Linked DNA regions of Homo sapiens: region 1 is linked to region 2. The links come from fine-mapping of genetic effects on plasma protein levels. A gene starts in region 2. The other region holds a variant in brackets. All regions are shown on one strand. Distances are between the middles of the regions.

Region 1 (8,596 bases), 61 kb before region 2:
GACGTGGCCTGGCTGGGTGAATGCGACCAGGGCTGCCTGGCCCTTGCTGAGCTCCTTGGATGGAAGGTGAGGAGCTGAGCAACCCCAGCCTGTCCTGAGCCCCATCCCTGGACCCTCTCCCCACCCCATGGGTCCTCTGACCCCATGATGCACAGTGACCTTTGACTTCTGTGACCTTTGCTCCTGCAGAAGGAGCTGGAGGACCTTGTCCGGAGGGAGCACGCCAGCATAGATGCCCAGTCGGGGGCGGGGGTCCCCAACCCCAGCACTTCAGCTTCCCCCAAGAAGTCCCCGCCACCTGCCAAGGACGAGGCCAGGACAACAGAGAGGGAGAAACCCCAGTGACAGCTGCATCTCCCAGGCGGGATGCCGAGCTCCTCAGGGACAGCTGAGCCCCAACCGGGCCTGGCCCCCTCTTAACCAGCAGTTCTTGTCTGGGGAGCTCAGAACATCCCCCAATCTCTTACAGCTCCCTCCCCAAAACTGGGGTCCCAGCAACCCTGGCCCCCAACCCCAGCAAATCTCTAACACCTCCTAGAGGCCAAGGCTTAAACAGGCATCTCTACCAGCCCCACTGTCTCTAACCACTCCTGGGCTAAGGAGTAACCTCCCTCATCTCTAACTGCCCCCACGGGGCCAGGGCTACCCCAGAACTTTTAACTCTTCCAGGACAGGGAGCTTCGGGCCCCCACTCTGTCTCCTGCCCCCGGGGGCCTGTGGCTAAGTAAACCATACCTAACCTACCCCAGTGTGGGTGTGGGCCTCTGAATATAACCCACACCCAGCGTAGGGGGAGTCTGAGCCGGGAGGGCTCCCGAGTCTCTGCCTTCAGCTCCCAAAGTGGGTGGTGGGCCCCCTTCACGTGGGACCCACTTCCCATGCTGGATGGGCAGAAGACATTGCTTATTGGAGACAAATTAAAAACAAAAACAACTAACAATCCGGTCTGGCCTCCTGTTTCTTTCTGTGGGCACCCAGGGAAATCTCTGAAGGGAGGGGGTTAGATCTTGGGCCACTAAGGAACCAGAAAGTCTCCGGGATCCAGAGTGAGGGGTAACAAGAGGGTCCTCACGGGGGCCCTCGTGGCTCTGACCCCTGGACTCCCAGCCTGCCAGTGTCCCTTCCTCTAAGCCCCGTCACTAAAGGCCTGAGGCCCCAGAAAGAGGGAGGAAAGTTGACTTCAGATACCCCAGCCCCGCCTCTTCCCCCTGCCTGCTCAGCTTCCTCTCTCCACTTCCTGCTACTGCAGGCCTCTCCTCCGAGAACAGGTAGGGCCCCCAGGAACCGAGCATCTGGCATCTTCAGCCCCTGCTGCCTCCCTTTGGTATGAGGCAGCTGCCCTGACCCACCCCTGCCACGCACTGCCCACAGCCTCCTCTCCTGCCACGGTACACAAGCAGGCATCTGCTTCCCTCTCCCCTCCCCTCCCCTCCCTTCCTTCCTGCTCTTGCCTGGGCAGGGCACCTGCGCCTCCCTGCCCACCTCCCTCCTTCCTAATAACACCCTGGCCTTCTGGTCAATGGCCTAATGTATTTGTTTAGCTGCCTATTATCCATATGCTACACCTGCCCCAAACAAGAATGGAAGGCCCTGAGGGGAGGAGCCTGTCCTGTTCATCACCCTCTCTCCAGGGCAGAGGCACCTAATTCCAGCCTGTATTCAGTAAATACTGGATGGATGGAAGGAAGGAAGGAAGGGAGGGAGGGAGGGAGGGAGGATGGATCCTCCCCCGATCCAGGTCTCCTGCTCCTGGGACTGCTGCTGGGATAAGTGCCACCCTAAGTGATAACCTACGTAGGACTCTGTACCTGGTTAGGAGCTGGGGCCTGATGGGTGGATGAAGAGAGAGAGGAACAGATGTGTGATAAAGCAAGATGAGTAAAATGTTCATGGTAGAATCTTGGTAGTGGGCATAGGGATGTTTCCTGTACAATTCTTTCAGCTTTTCTCTATGTCTGAAATTTTTCATAATAAAATGCTGGGGGAAGAGATTCAGTGGCCCCTCCATGGTGTGGGAAGGGAGGAAGAGGGGATGTTATTACCTTTCCAGATATAGGGACTGCCTACTCTGGGCCAAGAACTTTTCCAGGCGCTGACTGGGTTTTGCCAAGGGCTGGCCCACATTTACACAGCCCCCATGGCTGTTAAAAATCTTAACATATTTCCTACCACTTCAGTAAAGAGCTATTGTTTTGAGTCCTCTCCCCACACCGCAAGACACACTGGCCTCTCTCCTGGGATCCCCAGATTCCCCACCATCCGGTACTAAAGATTTAACCCCTGCCGGCCGGGTGTGGTGGCTCATGCCTGTAATCTCAGCACTTTGGGAGGCCGAGGCGGGGGGATCACTTGAGGTCAGGAGTTTGAGACCAGCCTGGGTAACACGTCAAAACCTTGTCTCTACTAAAAAATACAAAAATTACCCAGGCGTGGTGGTGCACGCCTGTAATCCCAACTACTCGGGAGACTGAGGCACAAGAATCGCTTGAACCTACGAGGCGGAGGTTGCAGTGAGCTGAGATCGTGCCACTGCACTGCAGTCTGGGCAATACAGTGAGACTCCGTCTCAAAAATAAAATAAAGAATTAACCCCTGCCACGGCAAGCGGCCTCTGGGGTCCATTCTGATTGGTCAGGGTCTCTGCCATATTGATTGTAAATATCTTGAACATGACCCGAGGGCTAGAGCAGCTTTGAGTCTTACCTTTCTCCCTGCCAGAGGCCAGGTCATGACTCACTGGCTTCCTGCAACCTGACGATGGCCCAGCCAGAAGACAAGGCACCTGAAGTCCCCACAGAGGGGGTGAGGTGAGGCTACTAGGGCTGAGGCTATGCCCTCCTTCCCCTGCATCCAGAAACCCTTTCCATCCAATACCTCCCTCACTACAGAATCCTGAATCACATCTCTGAGCCTCTGCCCTGGGCCTGCCCCTTCCTGTACCTTTGACCTCACCTCATTGTCCCACTGCCCACCTCTGACCCCTGACTCCCTGGACACTGTCCATCCCAGGCTGGTCCCACCACAGGTG[A/G]ACAAAGCAGACAGGACCCCTCTAGGGGTCCTCAGCACCCTAGAGCCACTTACTCGCCTGCAGAGGACATGGGGGGTGTGGCATGTGCCAGAGCTGGATACCCAGGATGCGGAGGCCCTTGTGGGGCTGTGGCCACTAGGGGTGAGTACTCACAGCTGGGGGCCCATCCTGACACCCTAGATTAGGACTCTGCTGGTTACTAGTGACAAACATGACACAAATTGGGCAAACCAAAAAGGCTATTTATTGCTGGGTGCAATGGCTCATGCCTGCAGTCCTAGCTACTCATGAGGCTGAGGTGGGAGGATCATTTGAGCTCAGGAGGTCAAGGCGGCAGTGAGCTGAGATCATGCCACTTCACTTGAGCCTGGGTGATGGAGCAAGACCCTGTCTAAAAAAAAAAAAAAAAAAATGTAATTTCAAGAAGCTCTGGATCCTGAACTTCAGAACACTTATAAATTCCTCTTCATCCCATTTCTTGGCTTTGCTTTCAACTGCGGGGAATTTTGGATATTTGGGACTGAATATAACAAACACCTGTCCTACAGCGGTTTAAACAAATAGGCATTTATCTTCCTAACATAACCAAAAAGGCAGCTGCTGGCTTTAGATCAGCAGTGCAGTGACATTGAGGCCAGCATAGCTATAATTCTCTTGGACTTCTCTCACAGCTTCCCGGGGGCTGCCCCAGGCCCAAGCACCTGCGTGCATTCCAGGCAGGAAGAACAGAGGCACCACTTGCATCTGTTTATTTTACAGGAAAAATAAAGGTTTTCTTTTCTTTTTTTTTTTAATTTTGAGAGTTTCACTCTTGTTGCCCAGGCTGGAGTGCAATGGCATGATCTCGGCACACTGCAACTTCCGCCTCCCAGGTTCAAGCGATTCTCCTGCCTCAGCCTCCTGAGTAGCTGGGATTACAGGCATCTGCCACAACGCCCGGCTAATTTTTTGTATTTTTAGTAGAGATGGGATTTCACCATGTTGGCCAAGCTGGTCTCAAACTCCTGACGTCAGGTGATCCACCCACCTCTGCCTCCCAAAGTGCTGGGATTACAGGTGTGAACCACCGTCCCCGGCCAAAATAAAGGTTTTCACAACTGATTCAGAAAATATAGATGGCTGGCCGGGTGTGCTGACTCACGCCTGTAATCCCAGCATTTTGGGAGGCTGAGGTAGGAGGCTCGCTTAAGCCTAGGAGTTCAAGACCAGCCTGGGCAACAGAGCAAGGCCCAGTCTCTATTAAAAAAAAAAAAAAAAGAAAAAAGAAAAAAAAAAGGATGGGGCCCAGGTAGCAATATTTTTAATTTTTTTATTTATTATTTTTATTATTATTTTTTGAGATGGAGTCTCCCTCTGTCACCCAAGCTGGAGTGCAGTGGCACGATATTGGCTCACTGCAACCTCTGCCTCCCGGGTTCAAGCGATTCTCCTGCCTCAGCCTCCCGAGTAGCTGGGATTACAGGCGCCCGCCATTACACCCGGCTAATTTTTGTATTTTTAGTAGAGACTGGGATTCACCACGTTGGCCAGGGTGGTCTCGAACTCCTGCCCTCAGGTGATCCACCCGCCTCGGCCTCCCAAAGTGCTGGGATTACAGGCGTGAGCCACCGTGCCCGGCTGTAGCAATATTTTTAACAGCTCTCTTGGGACGTATACAGCCAGAGCTAAGAACCACCACCTATATCAATCATGATCCATATATCAATCATACTCATGGCTGGGTATATTAATGCCGTGAACAAGGAATTCTGCAAGGAATGTGGAATAGGTTTGGAGACGACAGCAAACGGGGGCTACCACAGCTTCCTCCTCAGGAGGGTATCATCCTTCCCAGCTCAGAGCTGTATCCCACCAGTTTAGCAACACCAGTGTAACAAATGAAGTCTTTCCAAAAGAGCTCCAGCACGCAGTGGCTCACGCCTATTATCCCAGCACTATGAGAGGCTGAGAAGAGCGGATCACTTGAAGTCAGGAGTTCAAGACTAGCCTGGCCAATGTGGTGAAACTCTGTCTCTGCTAAAAATACAAAAACTTAGCCGGGCGTGGTGGCAGTCGCCCGTAATCCCAGCTACTTGGGAGGCTGAGGCAGGAGAATCGCTTGACCCCGGGAGGCGGAGGTTGCAGTGGGCAGAGATTGTGCCACTGCACTCCAGCCTGGGCGACAGGGCAAGACTCCGTCTCAAAAAAAAAAAAATCCTGTGGAAGATGTCCATTGGCTGAGCTTGAGTCACATGCCTGTTCCCTGAACCAAACAGTGGGCCGAGAGCACCCTCATCCTGTTGGCTAGATCAGGTCATGGGCCCACCCCGCCAGGGCTTGGGGGAAGTCAGCCCAACACACATGGACTGAAAGTAGGGAGAGGGTTTCCCTAAAGGAAATTTGGGGTGTGGAACCCAAAATAAGGGAAATGGATGCTAGTCAGGCAAAAGCAACAGACATCTGCGCACACCTTTGTCACGCTGGCCTTTGTCTCTATCCCCCAGAGTTTCTTGGTCACAGGACGTGACCCCAGCCAGGCCCTGGTGTTGAGGTCAGGACCTTTACCAGGAGAAGTCAATACCTACCAGATCCAGAAGATTCCCAGAGGTAAGGCACCTCCCCTGAGGTTCCAGCCCACAGTCAATTGATCACTAAGAACTATCAGCTGGACCGGCGCGGTGGCTCACGCCTGTAATCCCAGCACTTTGGTAGGTCGAGGCGGGTGGATCGCTTGAGGCCAGGATTTTGAGACCAGCCTGGCCAACATGGCAAAACCCCGTCTCTACAAAAAATACAAAAATTAGCCGGGCTTGGTGACGCGCGACTGTAATCCCAGCTACTTGGCAGGCCGAGGCACGAGAATAGCTTGAACCCAGGAGGCAGAGGTTGCAGTGAGCCAAGATCACACCACTGCCCTCCAGCCTTGGCAACAGAGGGAAACCCTGCCAAAACAAAACAAAACAAAAACACCTGTCAGCTTTGTTTCCAAAATATCTGATGAATATTTCCAATCCTGTCTCCCTTTCCTTCCCACAATCCATTCTGAGCCCAAGATATTTTTCAGTATCAATCAGATGTTATACACCCCTGCCCCAAATCCTGCAAAGAGCATGCAACGTCCTTAGATACAAAATGTAAACTCCTTGTCATGATCTATAAGGTGCTGTGTGATGTAGTTCCTTCCTGTCTCTCTATCTATTGCCCCTCATTCACTCTGCCCCATACACACTGTTACACTCTGTGTGTCTTTAGCATGCTAAGTGTGTTCCAGCTTCAGGACCTCTGCTTGGGTTCATCCTGTATGAATGCTTTTCCTAGAGGGGCTGGTTTAGTCTCCATCCTCCAGGCCTCTGCAGAAATGTAACCTTTCTTGACCATCATAGTTAAAAGATGGCACCTTGGTCACTTTCTTTTTCTTTTTTCTTTTAGACAGAGTCTCACTCTGTCGCTCAGGCGGAGTGCAGTGGCCCAATCTCAACTCACTGCCACCTCTACCTCCCAGGTTCAAGCAATTCTCATGCCTCTCAGCCTCCCAAGTAGCTGGGATTACAGGTGCACACCACCACACATGACTAATTTTTTGGTTTATTTTTATTTTTATTTATTTATTTTTTATCGTACTTTAAGTTTTGGGATACATGTCCAGAATGTGCAGGTTTGTTACATAGGTATACAGGTGTCATGGTGGTTTGCTGCACCCATCAACCCATGATCTACATTAGGTATTTCTTCCTAATGCTATCCCTCCCCTAGGCCCCCACCTCCCAATTTTTTGTATTTTTAATAGAGATGGGTTTTGCCATGTTGGCCAGGCTGGCTTGAACTCCTGACCTCAAGTGATCCACCCACCTCAGCCTCCCAAAGTGATGGGATTACAGGCGTAAGTCACCATGCCTGGCCTCTTGGTCACTTTCAATCACTCCATTTTCTTCATAGCACTCAATACAATATCCACTTTGTTTACTCGTTTTTAAAATTTATTTTTATTTATTTATTTATTTATTTATTGAGATAGTCTCACTTTTGTCGCCCAGGCTGGAGTGCAATGGCTTAATCTCAGGTCACTTCAACCTCCACTTCCCGAGTTCAAGTGATTCTCCTGCCTCAGGCTCCCAAGTATCTGGGATTACAGGCGCCCACCACCATGCCCAGCTAATTTTTGTATTTTTAATAGAGATGGGGTTTCGCCATGTTGGCCAGGCTGGTCTCGAACTCCTGACTTCAGGTGATTCACCCACCTCGGCTTCCCAAAGTGCTAGAATTACAGGCGTGAGCCACCGTACCCTGACTGTTTATTCATTTATATTCTGCCTTTTCCCCCTCCGCCCCCCGCTAAAAGGTAAGCTACAGGAAGGCAGTGAACTTGTCTGCCTTTTGATAACTGTATCTCCAGTGCCTAGAAAGGACTAAGGGCTCAGTAAATGTTTGTCTAATGAATGAATCCTTGTTGGTGGCATAAGTGGTACACAAGAGTAAAGATGGAGACTCCAAAGAGTGGGAACTTCCCTGTTCTGAAGGTCCCTGGGGGGATTCTGAAGGAATGGAGGAGCAAGAGCATCCCAGGGGACAGAAAACTGCCACCACTCAAGTTTACTTTCTCCTTCTTCCTCCCCCCACCACAGGTGTGTCCCTGGAATCCTCCAACCTCTGCATGCCAGACCTGCCCCATCTCCTGGCCTTTCTATCAGCCAGCAGGTACAGGTCACCCATCTGAGGCACTAAGGGGGACCCTTCCCTAAGACACCCCACTGACACTGTGGCTCCCACCTCTTTATTCTCAGGGATGTTCTGCCCAGAACCCTGCTCTTGCCCCCTCCCACTCTAGGGCCCAGAGATGAACACACAGGTGAGGCACGGTTCTCTAAAGAGGGCACAGCCAACCTGCCAATTTCCTTGCTCCAAGGGAATGAATGGGGCTTTGGGGCCCAGACTACTGGGTTTGAGGAGAATATAGAACTGGAGACTAGAGAGAGCTGGGGGCCTGGACTTTGTAGTCCCAGAGGGAGGAGGGGATGGGGGCCTGTATTCCTAGGTCCTAACAGAGGAGAGGATTGGAGGAGGAAGGAACTGGGGGTCCCGGACGCCTGGGCCTAAGTGAGAAGGGGACTAGGGGCCTGGACTCCTGGGTCTGACTGAGGAGGGGCCAGGAGCTAAGCCTCAGCACCTCCAGCAATGAAGCTGGGAAGTAAGTCTCCTGGCGCCTTGAGGGGACCAGGGTTGGTCCCTTGGATACCTAGGACACCTTCTCACTTCTGCTGGCTCCAGATCCTGTGCAGATCGGCAGGGTCCAACAGGACACCCCAGGGAAGGTGCTTTCCATTGTGAACCAGCTCTACCTGGAGACCCACAGAGGCTGGGGGAGGGAGCAGACCCCTCAAGAAACAGAGCCAGAGGCTGCTCAGAGACATGATCCAGGTTAGCTGGGCGGGGCCCTGGGCCTCTGAAGGGGAGGGAGCTGCTGCCCCTGTTCTAGGCGACCGAATGCCCTCCTCACTTCCAGCCCCCAGGAACCCTGCGCCTCACGGGGTCTCCTGGGTGAAAGGCCCGCTCAGCCCGGAAGTGGACCATCCTGGGCCGGCTCTCGCCAGC
Region 2 (7,998 bases):
AAAAAATAAAATAAAAAAAAAGAGGATCTGACCCAAGAAGGTGTCCACTGGCTTCCCCTGGCTGCCTGTAGGGAATAGACTGGGGACACAGGTGGAAACAGGGAGAGCAGGGTGGGCTCATGGAGAACAACTGATGCAGGAAAGGTCAGATTCAGGATCATCTTGAAGTTGGAGCCACAGAAATTGCTGCATCGTGAGATGTTTCTCATCTCAGGAAACATCACCACCATTGACTGCATTGCTCACGCTGCAGACCTTGAGTCCCAGGCTGTCTGGCATCTTGGGGAAAAGCATGGCCTCTGGAGCCAGCTGCATGGTTCCAGATTTTAAAATCCTACTTCTGATGCGGCATGGTGGCTCACACGTGTAATCCCAGTGCTTTGGGATGCCAAGGTGGGAGGATCGCTTGAGCCCAGGAGTTCAAGAGCAGCCTCGGCACAGTCCCAGCCACTCAGGAGGCTGAGGTGGGAGGATTGCTTGAACCTGGGAGTTCGAGGCTGCAGTGAGCCATGATCGTGCCACTGCACTCTAGCTGGTATAACAGAGTGAGACCCTGTCTCTAAAAACATTAATGAGTTAATTTAAATAGTTCATTACTCACTACTCACCAGCCAGTGTGACCCCCTTGGGCAAGTGCTTAACCTCTCTGTGCCTTAGTTTACCCATTGGTAACACAAATAGTAATAGGACCTAGCTGGTACGGTTGCTGTGAGGATTCTGTGAGTAATGACTCCACAAATATTAGCTTTTATTTCCTTCCCACCCAACATGCAATCAATCCCTCACCAAGTCCTGTGTGAGTTGTTTTTTTTCCGCCTTGGTGGTTTGGGGGTTCGAACCTGCTGTGCCTGGGTTCTGATCCCTGGTTGAGTCAATGGGTGGGGCCTGGGAGCCTGGATGAGCTCCATCATGCCTTCTCACCAGGTATTGACCTGATGGACATGGCTTCGGACATCCTGCAGCCCAAAGGAGATGATGTGGCCCGGATCAGCTGGTACCTCCGTGACATCATCACTCGATACCAGGAGACCTTCAACGTCATCGAGAGGGTGACTCTAGGGGTCTGGAGGGGATCTTTCTCCATACGCGCCTCCCCTGGGCCAGCCCTGACCCCACTCTTCCTGTTCCCTCTCAGTGCCCCAAGCCCGTGATTGCTGCCGTCCATGGGGGCTGCATTGGCGGAGGTGAGTCTGCGGCTATCCTCCTGCTCGGGTGCTCCCCAGGTGGGGCTGCTGCTCCGATGCCGCGGCCACTGGCATCCAGCCTCAGCTCTGTCATGGGCCAGACTGTGTCCCAAGAGGCAGCCCCACCTCCCGGGAGCCAGGGTTGGTTCTGGTGGTCATTCAGCATCCCTGGCCTCTACCTCCTAGGTGTGGACCTTGTCACCGCCTGTGACATCCGGTACTGTGCCCAGGATGCTTTCTTCCAGGTGAAGGTGAGTCATCCTCCCGAGCTCCTGCTTAGAGCTGGGCAGTGGGGTGAGGTTGGGGGGCCTGGAGTGAGCCTCGAGGGCTTCATGGAAGAGTCGGAGTTGAACCCGACAAAGTAAGACTTGCCCATAGAGGAAGTCAAGAGGTGAAGTTGTGAGTGGGTAAGGTATGAGGTGGGGTTGAGGCTGGCAGGTGTCAGAGGCAGAGATTGCTCCTGGGGCCATACTGGTGAGGGTGGGAGGCAGGATGGAGCCGGGGGATGCAGTAAAGGGGTCTCAGGTAGGGTGAGGAGGGTTCCTCTCTCACAGATGGAGCTGCCCTGAGGGAATGGGAGGGTGCATGAGTGGGAAGGTGGGCTCTATTCTAGGTTGAAGGAACTTGCCTGAGTCAAGAAGCTGCCTGGGCAATGGAATGGGACTTTGGAGGAAGTCACTGGGGTGAAGGTGGGGCGGGACTCTCCAGTAGACATGAAATTTCATGGACGTTGACATTGCGAGGGGCACAGTATTGGGCAGAAACCAAACACTGACCCGATTCCTCCCCCAGGAGGTGGACGTGGGTTTGGCTGCCGATGTAGGAACACTGCAGCGCCTGCCCAAGGTCATCGGGAACCAGAGGTGGGTGCAGGGGGTGTGGGGGTGTGGGCAGGAGACCCCAGAGCATCTCCCAGCCCCGGGGTGGCAGCCGCCTCCTGATGCACGCTTGCCTTTGCAGCCTGGTCAACGAGCTGGCCTTCACCGCCCGCAAGATGATGGCTGACGAGGCCCTGGGCAGTGGGCTGGTCAGGTAGGGCCATGGCCGTGGTAGCTCAGTGCTGGGGGCAGCCAGGCCTGGAGGGTTGGAGGCCTCTCCGGGTCCCCTTGTCTCCTCGCTCTAGAATTCCTAGTGGCATCCTTTCTTGGTGAGCTCATTTCTTTATTGTGGGGTCAGCCCCCTGCTCTGATTGGGCTGTTTCTCTGGGGTCTTGGGCCTTCCTCTGTGAGTGGCCACTTCTTCATCTGCGGGAGGCTGGAGGAGAGAGCCCTTCCCAGCCCACCCGGTCCCTGATCTCTTTCACTGCAGCCGGGTGTTCCCAGACAAAGAGGTCATGCTGGATGCTGCCTTAGCGCTGGCGGCCGAGATTTCCAGCAAGAGCCCCGTGGCGGTGCAGAGCACCAAGGTCAACCTGCTGTATTCCCGCGACCATTCGGTGGCCGAGAGCCTCAACTACGTGGTAAGGTGCACGCTCCGACCAATCACAGCCCTCCTCTAACCCCAGGCGACCAACCAGGGTGCAGGGTGCTCTCATGCTTTATCCTGATTGGCCCCTGCTAATCTCTCTCCTCGTTCTCTCTCAACACCCTCGGTACCAGGCGTCCTGGAACATGAGCATGCTGCAGACCCAAGACCTCGTGAAGTCGGTCCAGGCCACGACTGAGAACAAGGAACTGAAAACCGTCACCTTCTCCAAGCTCTGAGAGCCCTCGCGTCCCAGGCCCCAGCCAGGGGGCCGGCCTTGTCCCGCCTCATCCACAGAAAGGGAGGATGGGCGATGACAGTTGTTTCTATGCCTTCTGACCCAGTTTCCCAGTTTATAACTTTATGACAATGAGTTTCTCAAGCCCAAGGCCTTATCTTCACCCCACAAACAATAAAGCAAAGTAAAGAACCTGGTGCCCTTCTTGGATAGAGGAGAGGTGGGAGGGGCTGGGATGCACCTAGGGGCTCCAGAGACTGCAGTCCTGAAGGCTGGGGCTAGAGGTTGGATGCATGGGAATGGGTGGCATGGAGGTGATGGCCATTCAGACTGGCAGCGGGCAGGCGAGGGGCACAAGGAATTCCGGGGCGGAGGGAGTGAGCAAAAGTCGCTGGGGTCCCTCTGGGTTGCAAGGCTTCCTGGTCTCCCTGCCTGCCCTGGGGTTGAGGGTGGCGTTCGTGCCCTGCCTGGCACCTCTCACTGCACAGCACATGGGATCTGATGCTGGCGTCTCACACCTGTAATCCCAGCACTTTTGGAGGCTGACGCAGGTGGATTGCCTGAGCTCAGGAGTTTGCAACCAGCCTAGTCAACATGTTGAAACCCAGTCTCTACTAAAAATACAAAAATTAGCTAGGTGTGGTGGCAGGTGCCTCTAGTCCCAGCTACTCGGGAGGCTGAGGCAGGAGAATCCTTGAACCCAGGAGGTGAGTTTGCAGTGAGCTGAGATCATGCTGCTGCAGTCCAGCCTGGGTGACAGAGTGAGACTCTGTCTCAAAAAAAGAAAAAACAAAACAAAAAAGGACTTTGGGGTTTCTGGCCGGGTGCAGTGGCTCATGCCTGTAATTCCAGCACTTTGGGAGGTTGAGGCAGGTGGATCACTTGAGGTCAGGAGTTTGAGACCAGCCTGGCCAACATGGCAAAACCTGGTCTCTACTAAAAATACAAAAATTAGCCAGGCGTGGAGTAAGCCTGTAATCCCAGCTATTCAGAAGGCTGAGGCAGGAGAATCCCTTGAACCTGGGAGGTGGAGGTTGCAGTGAGCTGAGATGGTGCCACTGCACTGCAGCCTGGGTGATAGAGCAAGACTCTGTCTCAAAAATGAGCAAACAAAACTTTGGGATTTTTTATCCATATATCATCCCAATCTTCCGGATTTATGTTTGGAATGACTGCAAGAGACCAAGCATTAAGTTAATGACTTCTATATGCTATGTCCTGTTCTGAGCATTTATTATCTTAATGATCAAGGACTCTATGAAGTTGATACTATTATGATTATTATTATTATGACTATTATTGTTGCTATTTTTAGAGACGGACTCTTAGTCTGTCACCCAGGCTGGAGTGCAGTGGCATGATCATAGCTCACTGTAACCTTAACTCCTGGGTTCAAGCGATCCTCCTGCCTCAGCCTCTGAGTAGCTAGGAATACAGATGTGTGCTACCATGCCCAGCTAATTTTTATTTTATTTTTGTAGAGATGGGGGTCTCACTATGTTGCCCAGGCTGGTCTTGAACTCCTGGGCTCAAGCAGTCCTCCTGCTTCAGCTTCCCAAATTGCTGGGATTGTAGGCACAAGCCACCACACCCAGCCTAAGGTTGATACTACTCTTTTCTTTATTTATTTATTTTTCTGAGTGGCAGTTGGACCCACAGCTAGAACTTATTTGGCAGATTAATAACATACAGGCATTACTGGATCACAAATTCATTTTTAAAATATTTTGATAGCTATTCAATACTTGTTTCCTCTCTTATGAATTCCTTTTTTTTTTTTTTTTTTTTTGAAACAGAGTCTCCATCTGTCATCCAAGCTGGAGTGCAGTGGCGTGACCTTGGCTCACTGCACTCTCCTCCACTCAGGTTCAAGTGATTCTCCTGCCTCAGCCTCCAAGTAGATGGGATTATAGGCACCCACCACCATGCCTGGCTAATTTTTGTATTTTTAGTAGAGACTGGGATTTTGCCAGGCTGGTCTCGAACTCCTGCCCTCAGGTGATCCATCCACCTCGGCCAGTCAAAGTGCTGGGATTACAGGCATGAGCCACTGCACCCAGCCGATACTACTATATCCCCATTTTACAGATGAGCACATGGGCAAATTGAGGGTAAGGCACTGACCCATGATCATACAGCTGAGAAGTGGCAAAGGCAGGATTTGAACCTAGAACCTCTGGCTCCACACACTAGTAATCTAAACCACTCTCCCTACAATACAACATACGTGGTAAAGATGTGTGGTGGGCACGCAATCAACGTAGGTCCCTTCACAGTTGCTGGGAGAGGCAGGAATTTGCAGTTCCTCCGCGTTCTCCTCCTCCGCTGCCCACCTGTCCTGGGTCATTCCTGCAGCCTGCCCTGCCCTGCCTGGTCTCACCCTCCCTCTGCCAACAGAAGTCTGGGCAGGGTTTTATGGGCTCTGATAAGGCCCTGGCAGGGCCGAAGTTCATGAGCACTTCCTCTTTGCAGGAGGGCGTAGGGGAGGGGACCCAGGTGATTTGGGTCCTGGCTGGTCACCAGGGAAGCTGGCAAGGGAAGGGAGACTAGGGTGCGCTCTAGGAGAAGCCGACAGCCTGAGAGTCCCAGAAGAGGAGCCCTGTGGACCCTCCCCTGCCAGCCACTCCCTTACCCTGGGTATAAGAGCCACCACCGCCTGCCATCCGCCACCATCTCCCACTCCTGCAGCTCTTCTCACAGGACCAGCCACTAGCGCAGCCTCGAGCGATGGCCTATGTCCCCGCACCGGGCTACCAGCCCACCTACAACCCGGTGAGATGCCAGCTCAGGCCCCACTCCGCCCGCAGCTCCGTCCATAAGCCCTCACACCAATTTTCCCCACTCTGATCCTGGGGGGCCCCATCTGACTCTGTGGTCTGATTTACCCAAAGCTGACCCCGACCCTCGATTTACTCCTACCCTGACCTCAGGCTGTCTGTGTCCACGTCTAACTGTTGGCCCTCGTCATCTTCAACCTGGTCCTCCCCCATGGTTTCCTCTCTCCTGCTTAAGGGACTGGGGGGCTTTTCTGGGAGGGGTAAAGGCTGCAACAGGCAGATGGCTTGTGAGTCCCCTCACCAGGCCTCTTCTCCAGACGCTGCCTTACTACCAGCCCATCCCGGGCGGGCTCAACGTGGGAATGTCTGTTTACATCCAAGGAGTGGCCAGCGAGCACATGAAGCGGTAAGACCCTCCCCAAGCCAGGCCGGGCTGGCAGGGGACTTCCAACTGGGTGCTCTGGGCCTGGCTGTTGGGGGCTTTCTGCCCTTACCCCACCCTGGTGGAGAGGGGACTCTTTTTCTGCCCCACCCAATAGCCAGAGATGAATCTGGGGCAGATCAGGAGTGGGGACGTGGGGGCCAGAAGGTTCAGGGAGGGCTCACCGTGAGAGGCAGTCCCTGAGTTGGACATTAGACTGAAGCTGATGGGTGCAATGGCAGGAATTCAGATCACAGGCTCAGAGCCGGGTCCCCGAGTTAAAATCCCAGCTCTGCCACTCCCCAGCTCTGTGTTGGTGAAAGAGTGAAAGTGACTATACCTCTCTGTGCTTCATTTTCTTTTCTTTTCTGTTTTTGTTTTTTTTGTTTTTTTTTTTGTTTTGAGATGGAGTTTTGCTCTTGTCGCCCAGGCTGGAGTGCAATGGCATGATCTTGGCTCACTGCAACCTCTGTCTCCCAGGTTCAAGCGATTCTCCTGCCTCAGCCTCTTGAGTAGCTGGGATTACAGGCATGTGCCAGCACACTGGCTAATTTTTGTATTTTTAGTAGAGATGGGGTTTCACCATGTTGGTCAGGCTGGTCTCGAACTCCTGACCTCAAGTGATCCTCCCATCTCGGCCTCCCAAAGTGCTGGGATTACAGGCGTGAGCCACTGCGCCTGGCCCAGTCTTAGCTTTTTAAAAAGGGCCTTAACACGTTGATAATGATTGGCCTCATAGGACTTTTTTTTTCCTTAGAGATAGGGTCTTGCTCTGTTGCCCAAGCTGGAGTGCAGTGGCACAATATTATAGCTCACTTCGGCCTCCAACTCCTGGGCTAAAGTGATCCTCCTACCTCATCTTTCCAAGCAGATGGGACTACAGACATGTGCCACCATGCCCAACTAATTTAATTTTTAATTTTTATTTATTATTATTATTTGTTTTGTAGAGACAAAGTCTTGTTATGTTGCCCAGGCTGGTCTTGAACTCCTGTGCTCAAGCGATCCTCTAGCCTCGGCCTCCTAAAGTGCTGGGAGGATCAGGCACTGGTATGAGCCACTCTGCCCAGCCTGTTGTTTATTTATTTATTGTTTACTTCTTCACTGAGTGCCTATTCTGTGTCCTGGCACTAGGGATGGAGGAGTGAACAGGACAGAGACCCCTGCCCTCGTGGAGCTGATGTCCTAGTAGGGGAAACATAAAAAATAAGTCCAGGCCGGGCGCGGTAGCTCAGGCCTGTAATCCCAGCACTTTAGGAGGCCTAGGCAGGCAGATCACCTGAGATCGGGAGTTCAAGACCAGCCTGACCAAAATGGAGAAACCCTGTCTCTACTAAAAATACAAAATTACCAGGGCGTGGTGGCGCATGCCTGTAATCCCAGCTACTCAGGAGGCTGAGGCAGGAGAATCACTTGAACCTGGGAAGTGGAGGTTTCGGTGAGCCGAGATCGTGCCATTGCACTACAGCCTGGGCAACAAGAGTGAGACTCTGTCTCAAAAAAAAAAAAAAAAAAAGTCAAATATGTAAGATGTCAGATGATATTAAGTGCTATGAAGAAAATGAGGAGGGAAGGGAGATGGGGAGTGTATGTGCGGACAGAGGTTCCCTTTAAATTGTCCCCTTAAATAGGGTGGCCTGGCCGGGCATGGTGGCTTACGCCTGTAATCCCAGCACTTTGGGTGGCTAAGCCAGGCAGATCACCTGAGGTCAGGAGCTCGAGACTAGCCTGGCCAAAATGGCAAAATCGCATCTGGCTGGGCGTGGTGGCTCACGTCTGTAATCCCAGCACTTTGGGAGGCAGAGACGGGCGGATCACGAGGTCAGGAGATCGAGACCATCCTGGCTAACACAGTGAAACCCCGTCTCTACTAAAAATACAAAAAATTAGCTGGGCATGGTGGCGGGTGCCTGT

Which allele goes with the higher level. Alleles are on the strand shown, and positions count from the first base shown. The strength of an association depends on the size of the effect and on how common the allele is.
As copies of G replace A in region 1, the plasma level of the protein whose gene starts at base 5,555 in region 2 goes down (weak association).

What was found. PIP is the posterior inclusion probability: the model's chance that the variant is causal. Protein levels are from antibody-based Olink assays in UK Biobank. Linkage for the fine-mapping came from a reference panel and not from the study's own genotypes, which makes the PIPs less certain.
Region 1: its variant is fine-mapped to the plasma level of the LGALS4 protein (UK Biobank, PIP above 0.99).

The regions. Positions count from the first base shown.
Region 1 is chr19:38,870,904-38,879,499 of GRCh38, reverse strand. RINL (Ras and Rab interactor like) reads left to right here and starts at 1,225. Exons shown (of 12, transcript NM_001195833.2): 1 at 1,225-1,268; 2 at 2,719-2,807; 3 at 3,010-3,169; 4 at 5,512-5,614; 5 at 7,630-7,702; 6 at 7,789-7,853; 7 at 8,273-8,422; 8 at 8,508-8,596. The coding sequence starts at 2,758. It overlaps SIRT2 (sirtuin 2), which reads left to right. Exons shown (of 16, transcript NM_012237.4): 15 at 1-66; 16 at 190-940. The coding sequence ends at 345. RefSeq lists enhancers at 589-688, 729-848, 8,267-8,596 and a silencer at 1,389-1,438. The variant A/G (reference allele first, on the strand shown) is at 3,029.
Region 2 is chr19:38,810,502-38,818,499 of GRCh38, reverse strand. It overlaps LGALS4 (galectin 4), which reads left to right and starts at 5,555. Exons shown (of 10, transcript NM_006149.4): 1 at 5,555-5,658; 2 at 5,981-6,069. The coding sequence starts at 5,614. It overlaps ECH1 (enoyl-CoA hydratase 1), which reads left to right. Exons shown (of 10, transcript NM_001398.3): 4 at 925-1,049; 5 at 1,136-1,184; 6 at 1,371-1,435; 7 at 1,977-2,047; 8 at 2,145-2,216; 9 at 2,493-2,643; 10 at 2,783-3,078. The coding sequence ends at 2,887. RefSeq lists a silencer at 2,545-2,745.